2 separate regions of the Homo sapiens genome follow, and region 2 is linked to region 1. Evidence: fine-mapped QTL for protein levels in blood plasma. Region 1 holds a variant in brackets. A gene starts in the other region. All regions are shown on their reverse strands.

The links. A credible set is the group of variants that fine-mapping cannot tell apart. PIP is the chance, under the fine-mapping model, that this variant and not a neighbour inherited with it causes the effect. The UK Biobank Pharma Proteomics Project read protein levels with antibody pairs (Olink). The fine-mapping took linkage between variants from a reference panel, not from the people measured, so its PIPs are less certain.
Region 2: it holds the start of ADAMTSL2, and the variant in region 1 is the best candidate, but not a certain one, in a credible set for the plasma level of the ADAMTSL2 protein (UK Biobank, PIP 0.52).

The regions. Positions count from the first base shown.
Region 1 is chr19:41,316,833-41,321,208 of GRCh38, reverse strand. CCDC97 (coiled-coil domain containing 97) reads right to left here. Exons shown (of 5, transcript NM_052848.3): 2 at 4,370-4,376; 3 at 1,357-1,635; 4 at 739-868. Among named protein-coding and RNA genes, the nearest start is that of CCDC97, 8.8 kb to the right of the region's middle. RefSeq lists an enhancer at 540-1,277. The variant G/A (reference allele first, on the strand shown) is at 1,923.
Region 2 is chr9:133,532,633-133,537,008 of GRCh38, reverse strand. ADAMTSL2 (ADAMTS like 2) reads right to left here and starts at 2,305. Exons shown (of 19, transcript NM_014694.4): 1 at 2,092-2,305; 2 at 207-446. The coding sequence starts at 296. RefSeq lists enhancers at 1-194, 735-1,276, 1,817-2,358, 2,359-2,898, 2,899-3,440 and a silencer at 3,699-3,788.

The sequences.
Region 1 (4,376 bases):
CTGGTGACCATGGCTGGGCCCCACGGCAGGGGCAATCACAATTCCCACTTTCCTGATGAGCCCACCTCAGGACGGACGTAGGGTCCGCTTATGTGTGGTCACACATTTCACATGTCATCGGGGCTGGATGTGAAACCAAGGAGGGTCCTCTGCTGCTGGGCCCAGTGTTTGGGACCACAAGGCAAAGCTACCTTAAATGACAAAACCAATCTTTGACTGACACATCACTCTCCTGGGTCCTTTTCCAAAGCAGGTGGCCCACGTGTCTCAGCCCTGGGGTGCTACTGGAGAAATGAACAACTGTAACTGTGGGGGCAGCCAGTGCAGGCCCCTCCATGCCGGGCATGAACTTTGCCAGGGGTTACTTCCTGCAGCATGAGGAGGTCCAAGGTGAAGCGGAAGAGGTTGGGCTTCCTAGGGAGACTTGGGGGGCTTGGGGTAGTAGCCTCTGCCATTGCCAGGAGGGAAGTGTTTCAGGGTTTCATTGATACTGAGCTATATGTCATCCCTGTCCATCCCCTGCCTTAGAGGTGAGGAGACTGAGGGTCTGAGATGGACAAGGCTAGTCCGAGGTCACCCAGCCTCTTCCTTTGGCTGTTCAACCCCACATCCTGGAACTGTTTTGGGGCCTTGTAGCTCCACAAAGGGAGACCCCCACAGCTTGTTAAGGGCTCTGCATGTGACCAAAGGCCGTGGGATGCTGGGCTGGGGGATGGGGAGGTGGAGGCACAGGAGCACCTGTAGTCAAAGTCCCCGTCCTTGCCATCTAGGAAGCGCTGGTGCATGCGGCTGGTGAACTCCTCTCGCAGGATCAGCCTCTCCTCCGAGTCGGGAACCCAGGCCTCCGAGTCCTTGCCTGACCTCTGGTCTGCAGAGGGAGAGGAGAGGGGGTGTGAATGCGGGTGCACTCGGGCAGGCACTGAGCACAGAGTCCACAGAGAGCTGCTGCTCCTGTGCCCAGCCTTGCGCTGGGTGGCTCTGGGAACACACTAGTGACAGAGATGGCCCTGGTCCCTGCCCTCCAGGGACACGCATAAAACACATGACCATATAGTGCTCTGGAGACTGTATCCTCGGGTCAGGATCTGAGACCTGAAGGGTGGGAGGAGAGGCATTCCTGGCGGAGGGAACAGCCTGTCCAGACCTGGAGGCGAGGGTTCATTTGGTGCCTCAGAGTGGGGGATGGGGATGCTGCAGCGGTTGGAAGGGCATACACAGAGAGTCAGGCTGGGCAGGGGAGGGACGCAATGTCGGCTTTTGCAGGTTGGGGGCCCAGCCTGCTGCCATGAAGTGGAGACAGACAGGCCTAGGGCTGGGGTGTCTGGAATCTGGGGTCTTCCTGCTACTGGCCCTCACCTTCCTCGTCACTGTCCTCCTCCTCTTCCTCTTCCTCCAAGCAGGCCTCCTCCTCCTCCTGCTGTTGGAGCAGACGCTGCTGTAGCTCCCGCTCCTCGTAGGACTGGAGCAGCAAGTTGGAGAGCGGGCAAGCAGGTCTCCCGGGGGACCCGGGCTTGGGGGGCTGGTGGGTTGGGGTGCGGGCACTGAGCTCCTCCTGGGTGAGATACTGCCCGATGTACTGCTCATATAGCAGGGGGGCCCGGAACCGCATCTGCTCATCACTGAAGTACTCGCCCCCTGCACAGAGGAGAGACAGGGTGGGCATGGGGTGAGCGACTGAGCAGATAGTGTCCATGTGGGTATGTGTGTGATCATGCTTGTGGGATGATGTGCATACACAGTCCAAGTGTGTGTATGCACACATTCAAAAACACAGGAAAACATGCAGGCACCTGAGGTGCGCGTGAGTACTCATGCAGGCGCCTGAGGCGTGCGTGTGAATAATGCAGGCGCCTGAGGCATGCACGTGAATACTCATGCAGGTGCCTGAAGCTGTGTGCGCAAGCACTCATGCAGGCACCTGA[G/A]GTCATGTGCATGTGATTACTCGTGCAGGCACCTGAGTGTGTGTATGTGGCCCGGCCTCTATCTTCCTGTGTATTCATGTATTCATGCATCCAAGCATGTGTGTGCATGGGCAGACCTGGCTACATCCTGGCCTCTGAGGCTCTGACGGTCTGGAGCTCGTGTACAACTGTGTCCAGGCACGATGCACAAGCTCCTGCCCATGGACGTGTACATGGCCTATGTACACACACATGTCCTGTGAGGCCCAGCATATGCCCACAGACACCTGTCTGTCTGGGTGTCAGCATGCAGGACAATGCAGCAGAAGTTGTGTGTCTCTAGGTTGTGTGCCTGTTTGTGGGGCCCTAGTCTGGCTGGCAGTGGACACGCCTTCACTGTGGGGCGTGTATGTGTGTACATCCACGTGGATTTGGCATGTGTGTGCAAGGGATCAGGTCAGGTGGGGCATCTGCCCGTGTATCCCTGGGAAAGCCTCCTGGTGGTGGAAGGCCCTAGATCCATCCTCTCTCGAGTGCTCCTCTATGCAGCAACCCCTCAGGTGGGCCTGGCTTCCCCACTACCCCAAAACTTGAGTTCCCTGCATCACCCCTGGCTGCCTGTTTCTGCACGAGTGACTCTGTCCCTCAAATAACAGTTAAACCTGCCCTGGTCCCTCCCCTCCACTGGTCCTAGCCGTGTCTTCAGAGTCCAGGGCAAAGAAACTGCTCGGACTCCTGGCCTCTGCAGCACCATAGGCTGTGACTGTCCCTGTCCTGCTCAGCTTCCCCACTCCTGCCAGCAATCTTACCCCCAGCTGTTTGTGGCATCCTCTAGCAGACTCAGTTTTTTGAGATGGAGTCTCGCTCTGTTGCCCAGGCTGGAGTGTAGTGGTGTGATCTCGATTAACTCTAACTGCAACCTCCGCCTCCCGGGTTCAAGTGATTCTCCTGCCTCAGCCTCCTGAGTAGCTGGGATTATAGGCACCTGCCACAGTGCCTGGCTAATTTTTTTTGTATTTTTAGTAGAGCCGGGGTTTCACCATGTTGGCCAGGCTGGTCTTGAACTCCTTATCTCAAGTGATTTGCCTGCCTCGGCCTCCCAAAGTGCTGGGATTACAGGTCTGAGCCACTGTGCCCAGCCTCTAGCAGATTCAGTTTCTATCCCTCCTTCTCCCCAACTTGGATTATCACCCACCCCGGCTCTGGATCTCTCTCCATCTCTTCCTTTATCTCCATCTTTCTATCTTTCCTGCTTTTTTCAGTTTCTGTCACCTACCCCCACCTCATTCATCTTTCTTCTTTTTTTTTTTTTTTTGGCAACCTCCACCTCCCAGATTCATGTAATTCTCCTCCCTCAGCCTCCCAAGTAACTGAGATTACAGTTGCCTGCCACCACATGTGGCTAATTTTTTTGTATTTTTAGTAGAGATGGGGTTTCACCATGTTGGCCAGGCTGCTCTGGAACTCCTGACCTCAGGTCCACCCCCACCTCGCCCTCCCAAAGTGCTGGGATCACCGGCTTGAGTGACTGTGCCCGGCCCATCTTCCTTCTGTTTTCATCCTCATTTCCACATCTGTGTTTTTTTTTTTTTTTTTTGAGACAAGATCTGGCTTTATCGCCCAGGCTAGAGCTTAGTGGTGGGATCTCAGCTCACACAACTTCCACCTCCCAGGCTCAAGCAATTCTCCCACCTCAGCCTTCTGAGTAGCTAGGGCGCCACCACACCCAGCTAATTTTTGTATTTTTTGTAGAGACAGCATTTCGCCATGTTGCCCAGGCTGGTCTTGAACTCATGAGCTCAAGTAATCTACCCACCTTGACCTCCCAAAGTGCTGGGATTACAGGCATAAGCCATCATGCCCAGCCTCTCTCTCTTTCTCTGTGAACCTCTCTATAACTTGTGCCTTCTCCCTAACGGCAACTTAACTCACTCTGCTTCATTCACTCTCATCTTTTAACTTTGGTTCTGGTGTTGTGGTCACAAGGATGCTTTTAATTATGTCATGGTCAAAAAGCTATCTTTTTTTTCCTTCATGGTTTTCACCGTGTGTCTTGTTCAGAAGGCTTCTGTGTCCCCAAGGTCATGTACATACTCCTTTTGGTTTCCCCTGATGCCTCTGTATATGGTATGAGGTAGGGATCTCATGTTTTGTTCCTTAGGTATGACCAATTATCACAGCACTGTGTACTGTGTCCTCAGCCTACCAATCTGAAATGCCACTTCTAACATCTACTAAATTCTGATCTATTCTCATTGTCTGTCCCATTCTCTTCCCTGGACCCCTGTCTATCTCTCCCCCTTACTTTACATTTCTGTCTCAGTCTCTTCCTGTGTCCCTGTCTCTGTCTCAGAACTTCTCTCCCAGGATCTCTGTCTCTGCTCTTGTATTCTTTTCTCTAATTCCCTCTGCCTCAGTCTCCCCTCCCTCCCCATATGTGCCCACTGTCGCCCATCTGGCCCCCACACCTTGGAT
Region 2 (4,376 bases), not on the chromosome of region 1:
AGTCGCCAGGGGCTCCACAGTAGCCAGGGCCCCAGTTCAGAGGCTGATCTGACTGGCTCTGGGCAGAAGTTTCTAGGAGCCAAGATGGGTTCTGGGACCTGGGGCACGTGCCCACACGGCTCCCTCCAAGCCAGTCCATCTGAGAGTGATCACAGCACCTGGGTAGGGGACTGGCATGGGCCCTCAGACCACAACACCCCACTCACCGTGGACCCGGTTGACACTGTGTCCCCAGCTACAACTGCCAGAACCAGCAGGAACCAGGCCCAGCAGGAACATTGCCATCTGCCATCCATCCTAGGAAGCAAGGCCACTGTCACCACCAGGCCAGCTCCGATCCTCTTCCAGATGACCAGGGTACGCTTTGGGAAGAGCCCTCGGGGCCCAGCCAGTGCCCAGGCCTCAAGGTTATCTGGGACTAGTTGGTCGTGGTTGTCTGGCAGACCCTGTTGGGAAGGATGAACCCCCCGCCTCAGTCTAGGCTTAGCAAGAAGGAGCTTGGTGAATGATTAGTAATGCCTGCTTCAGGCAAGACACCCAGCGGCGGTGTGCGTGCTAAGCCTGTGCCACCCTTGATCCAAGGGCATGCAGGGAAGCATGCCATGCTTTGCCTCCAAGTCCTCAAGCCCCCTAGAGAAGGGCTGTGGAGACAGCCAGCCTCGGCTGAGGGGGCTGGGGACCCAGGCGGGGGGAAAGGCTCTGGTTCGAAGGGATGGGCCTGGGCTCAGTCCAGCGCCTTGGCAGGAGCACCTTGGGATTTTAACTGGCTCAGCTCTTGCTGGCCTCGCAGGAGAATGGCCTCTGCCACTGGCTGCTAGGGTCAGTGCATGGGGATGGGCTTGGCCAGGTCCCGGGGGAATGTGCAGCCTCGCCCTAGACCAGCAGCTCCACAGTCAGCATCCAGCAACAGCCGGCACTCAGGTGAGGCAGAACCCAGGTACCTATGCCGCCTCCCGATCCCCGGAGAGAAGATGGAATTGGGGGAGGGGCAGGGCAGGAGGAGGTGCAGTTTGTGCCAGCATGTCAGCAGTCCAGGGCCACAAGGCTGACTTCCTCCCAACAGCCAGCACCCTTGGCTCAAAACACCTGCCAGGGGTCAAAGCAAGCCCATTGGAAGGGACTGTCCAGCCTCCAGGCCCTCAGCTCTCCCCACCCCCTCCTCAGCGTCGACCCTGCCCTGTGGAAGGGAAGACCAGAGATCCACCATGACCTCTGTCCAGGCCTTGCTCAGGTGCTGAGGGTCACTTGCCAGCGAGTTAGAGAAGGGATTTCAGAAACCACGCAGCCTGCACTCATAACCTGGAGCCCAGAGAGGGGAGCCAACCTGCTCAAAGCCACACAGCAAGGTAGCACACTAGCAAACTCAGGGACTCGACCCCCACGCCTGGCCAATTCCAGGGGAAGAAGGCATGGAGGTCACCCCTCACCCCTGCCAGGCCAGAGGCCAACTCGGGCTCTGCCCCTCCCTCCTCAGCAGCCTCCATCCAACTTGAAGAGTTTCCTTGCAGGCCCGGCACCTGCAGATTTTCAGGGGCCACTCCAAGGACACCACTGCAGCCCGGACGACGCAGCAGTGCACCCTGGAGTGGGGAGCCTGAGTCTGACCTCCCCTGCCCCCGCCGCCTGCCCCCCACCTCCCTCCCCTGCAGACCTCCATCTGCACTCTCAGCCTCACACCCACAGGAGCCCCCTCCACTGTGCCATTGGCTAACGGGTGCCCCAGCCTCTGCCTGCCGGCTGAAGACAGGTGCCAGCCGGCCTCACACTTGCTTTTTTCATTAAGGCTTCCAGACACCACTGGCTTCTGGCCAGGCCTCGCTCACGGGGATCCATCCCTCCCTGGGGTCCAAAAGCAGCGGCTGGCGGCAGCAGAGAGGTCTGCCGTGCACACAGAGCTCCGGGCGCACAAGGCTAGGTGCTGGGAGGCCACCCTGCCCCGTGCTCTGCGGCCCGACCCCTCCCCACAAGCCTCCCCACGTTATGTAACGGCTCCAGAGGGCGCGGGGTGCTCCTACCCCCAGCCCCACTCTGAGCAGTGGGCTGGCCTGGTGGACGCTGCAACGTGAGGGGGACGGGGACGAGGTGGCCTACCTGGCTTCGGGTCAGCAGGTTGTCCTCCCAGAGAAAGGGGCGAGCGCTGCGGAGGGCAGACGGCGCCAGGTGCGCTGTGCGTGCGGGGGCGGCGTGAGTGCAGAGGCTGCGGCCCGGCCTCCCTCTCCCCTTCCCCTCCTCCCCCGCGCCGCCTCCCTCTCCCACTTCAAAGAGCATCCAAGAGAGGGGGTTCCCGGGAGGGGCGCAGCCCAGTGGCGGCTCTGCGCCGGCGGCCGCCTTTATAGCTGTCAGGCAGACGGGGAGGAACACTCACACTTCCCACCAGGCCGCTCCCCCGCCCGCGCCGGCCGGCCTGGCGCACACTTTAACCCGCTCTGCGCCTCTGGAGCCCGGCCAGGCCGGCCCAGCTGCCTGTTGGCTGCTGCCGGCGGCGGCGGCCCAGGAGCGGCGAGCAGGGAGGCCTTCTTCCCGGGTCCAGAACTGGGGGCCACATGTCGGGTGTCCAGACGGAGCAGCCGCTGGCCTGAGGTTACCGGGGAGGCTGGCGGTGGCAAAGCCCCAGCCCCGCCTGTCCGGCTTCTGCCTCCAGAGCGGGCCCTGTCCCTGGGGCTCCTGAGAATGGGGTCTGGGATGTATGAGGTGTCCCGTCTGATGGCTCCGTTGTACGGAGGGAAAGGCTGAACTTCCGGGACGACCGTGCCCCAGGTCACGAGCCTCAGAAAGCTCCCGAGATGCAGGGGCCTAAGCAGGTGGAGGGACGCAGGGAGACCCAGCGAGAATGAACCAAGGGCTCCAGGGAGGAGACAGATGTGCCCGTGGCCTGCTGACCAGATGGCTAGAGCAGCCAGGGCCAGGGCAGAGAGGCTCAGGGATTCTGCAGATGTCCAGCACCAACTTGGCAGCCCCTGGCAGGCCAGGCCTGGAGCTCAAGCCTCTGTTCCTGCTGAGTCAGGGCACAGAGGGGAGCGAGAGTGGGTGGAGCAGCAGAGCCCCCCTGGGAAACTCCCGGCGGGCCCCAGACTTTGTGAGGCTTTCCTAAAGCAAGGCTGGGCACCTAGCCTCTGCACACCAGCTTCCCCAGAGCCCATCCTCGGCAAACAGAGGCACCTCCAAAAAGGGGAGGAGGAGGAAGCTGGGGCACCATTCCATCAGGTCATCTGTGTCTTTTCATCCATGCCCCTGCCTCCATGCAGCAGATGTCCTGGGCCCACAGCAGTGCCGGGAAGACACTTCTCCTTCCCTCTGTCCTCCCTGCTGGAAGAAACTTGTGAGTTCCTTCAGCTGCCTTCATGAGAAAGTTCTGCCCTGTGTCTGACCACCCACCAGAAAGGCTGGGAAGGAAAGCCACCAGTAATAGTAGTGAAAGCGATAATACCGTCTGCCCTCTGTCCAGCTTGTCCTACGGGCCCAGAGCTGTGAGGCCAGATCCACCTTTATGATCTGCATTTCACAGGTGGAAGAACTGAGGTTCGGGGACCAAGTCACCTCTCCAGTAGGCAAGGCTGGGATGCCAGCGCTCCTGAGTGTCGGGTTCTCTCCTCTGCCGGGTTGTTTAAGTTTCTCTCCCCGGGACCCTCGGGCAGGCAAGTCTTATTCATCTCATTCTCCTGCTGGGGCAACTGGGATGCAAGGTGGCTGCTCCTAGTCACAGGGCCACCTGCGGTGTGGAACCAGGACTAACCCTAACCCTAACCCAGGCCCACACTGCCCCCTGGGGTCGCTGTGCTGAATCACAGACATGGTGGCACCTGTCACCCAGCACACACACACACACACACACACACACACACACAGGCACACACACACCCAGTCCCTCTCACATGACCGGATTACACTCGCTCTGGGTGCCTCTGCCATCCCCTTCCTCTCTCTTCTGGTGACCGCCAGGCCTCGCACCCCTTGGCACAGTCCCCGAGCTCTCCTGGCGTTTGTGGCCTCACATCCAGCCAGCGCCAGGGTGACTAACGGTTTCCCTTGGGAGGGACCCCACAGCCGACCAACACAAACACCCCCAGTGTCTTCTCTTGGCTCAGCAGGACGGCACAGGCTGCAGGCTGGCCACCTGGGAGACGGGTCTGTGGGGCCAGCCATCCCCTGGCTCTGTGACCTCCTGCAGGTGTGTGACCCTCCAGGCCCCAGCTCCCCTGGCCAGCCACACTTCCACACCACCCCCACCCCTTACCCCAGAGCCTGCAGACTTGAGGCCCACAGGGAGCCATGACTGGCACGTAGCAGGTGCTCTGGTAGCTCCTGATGCCAGGGGCTCCTTACCCCTTAGAGAGTGCTGTTGAGGTGAGTCCCCCACTCTCCAGGATCCCTCTTCG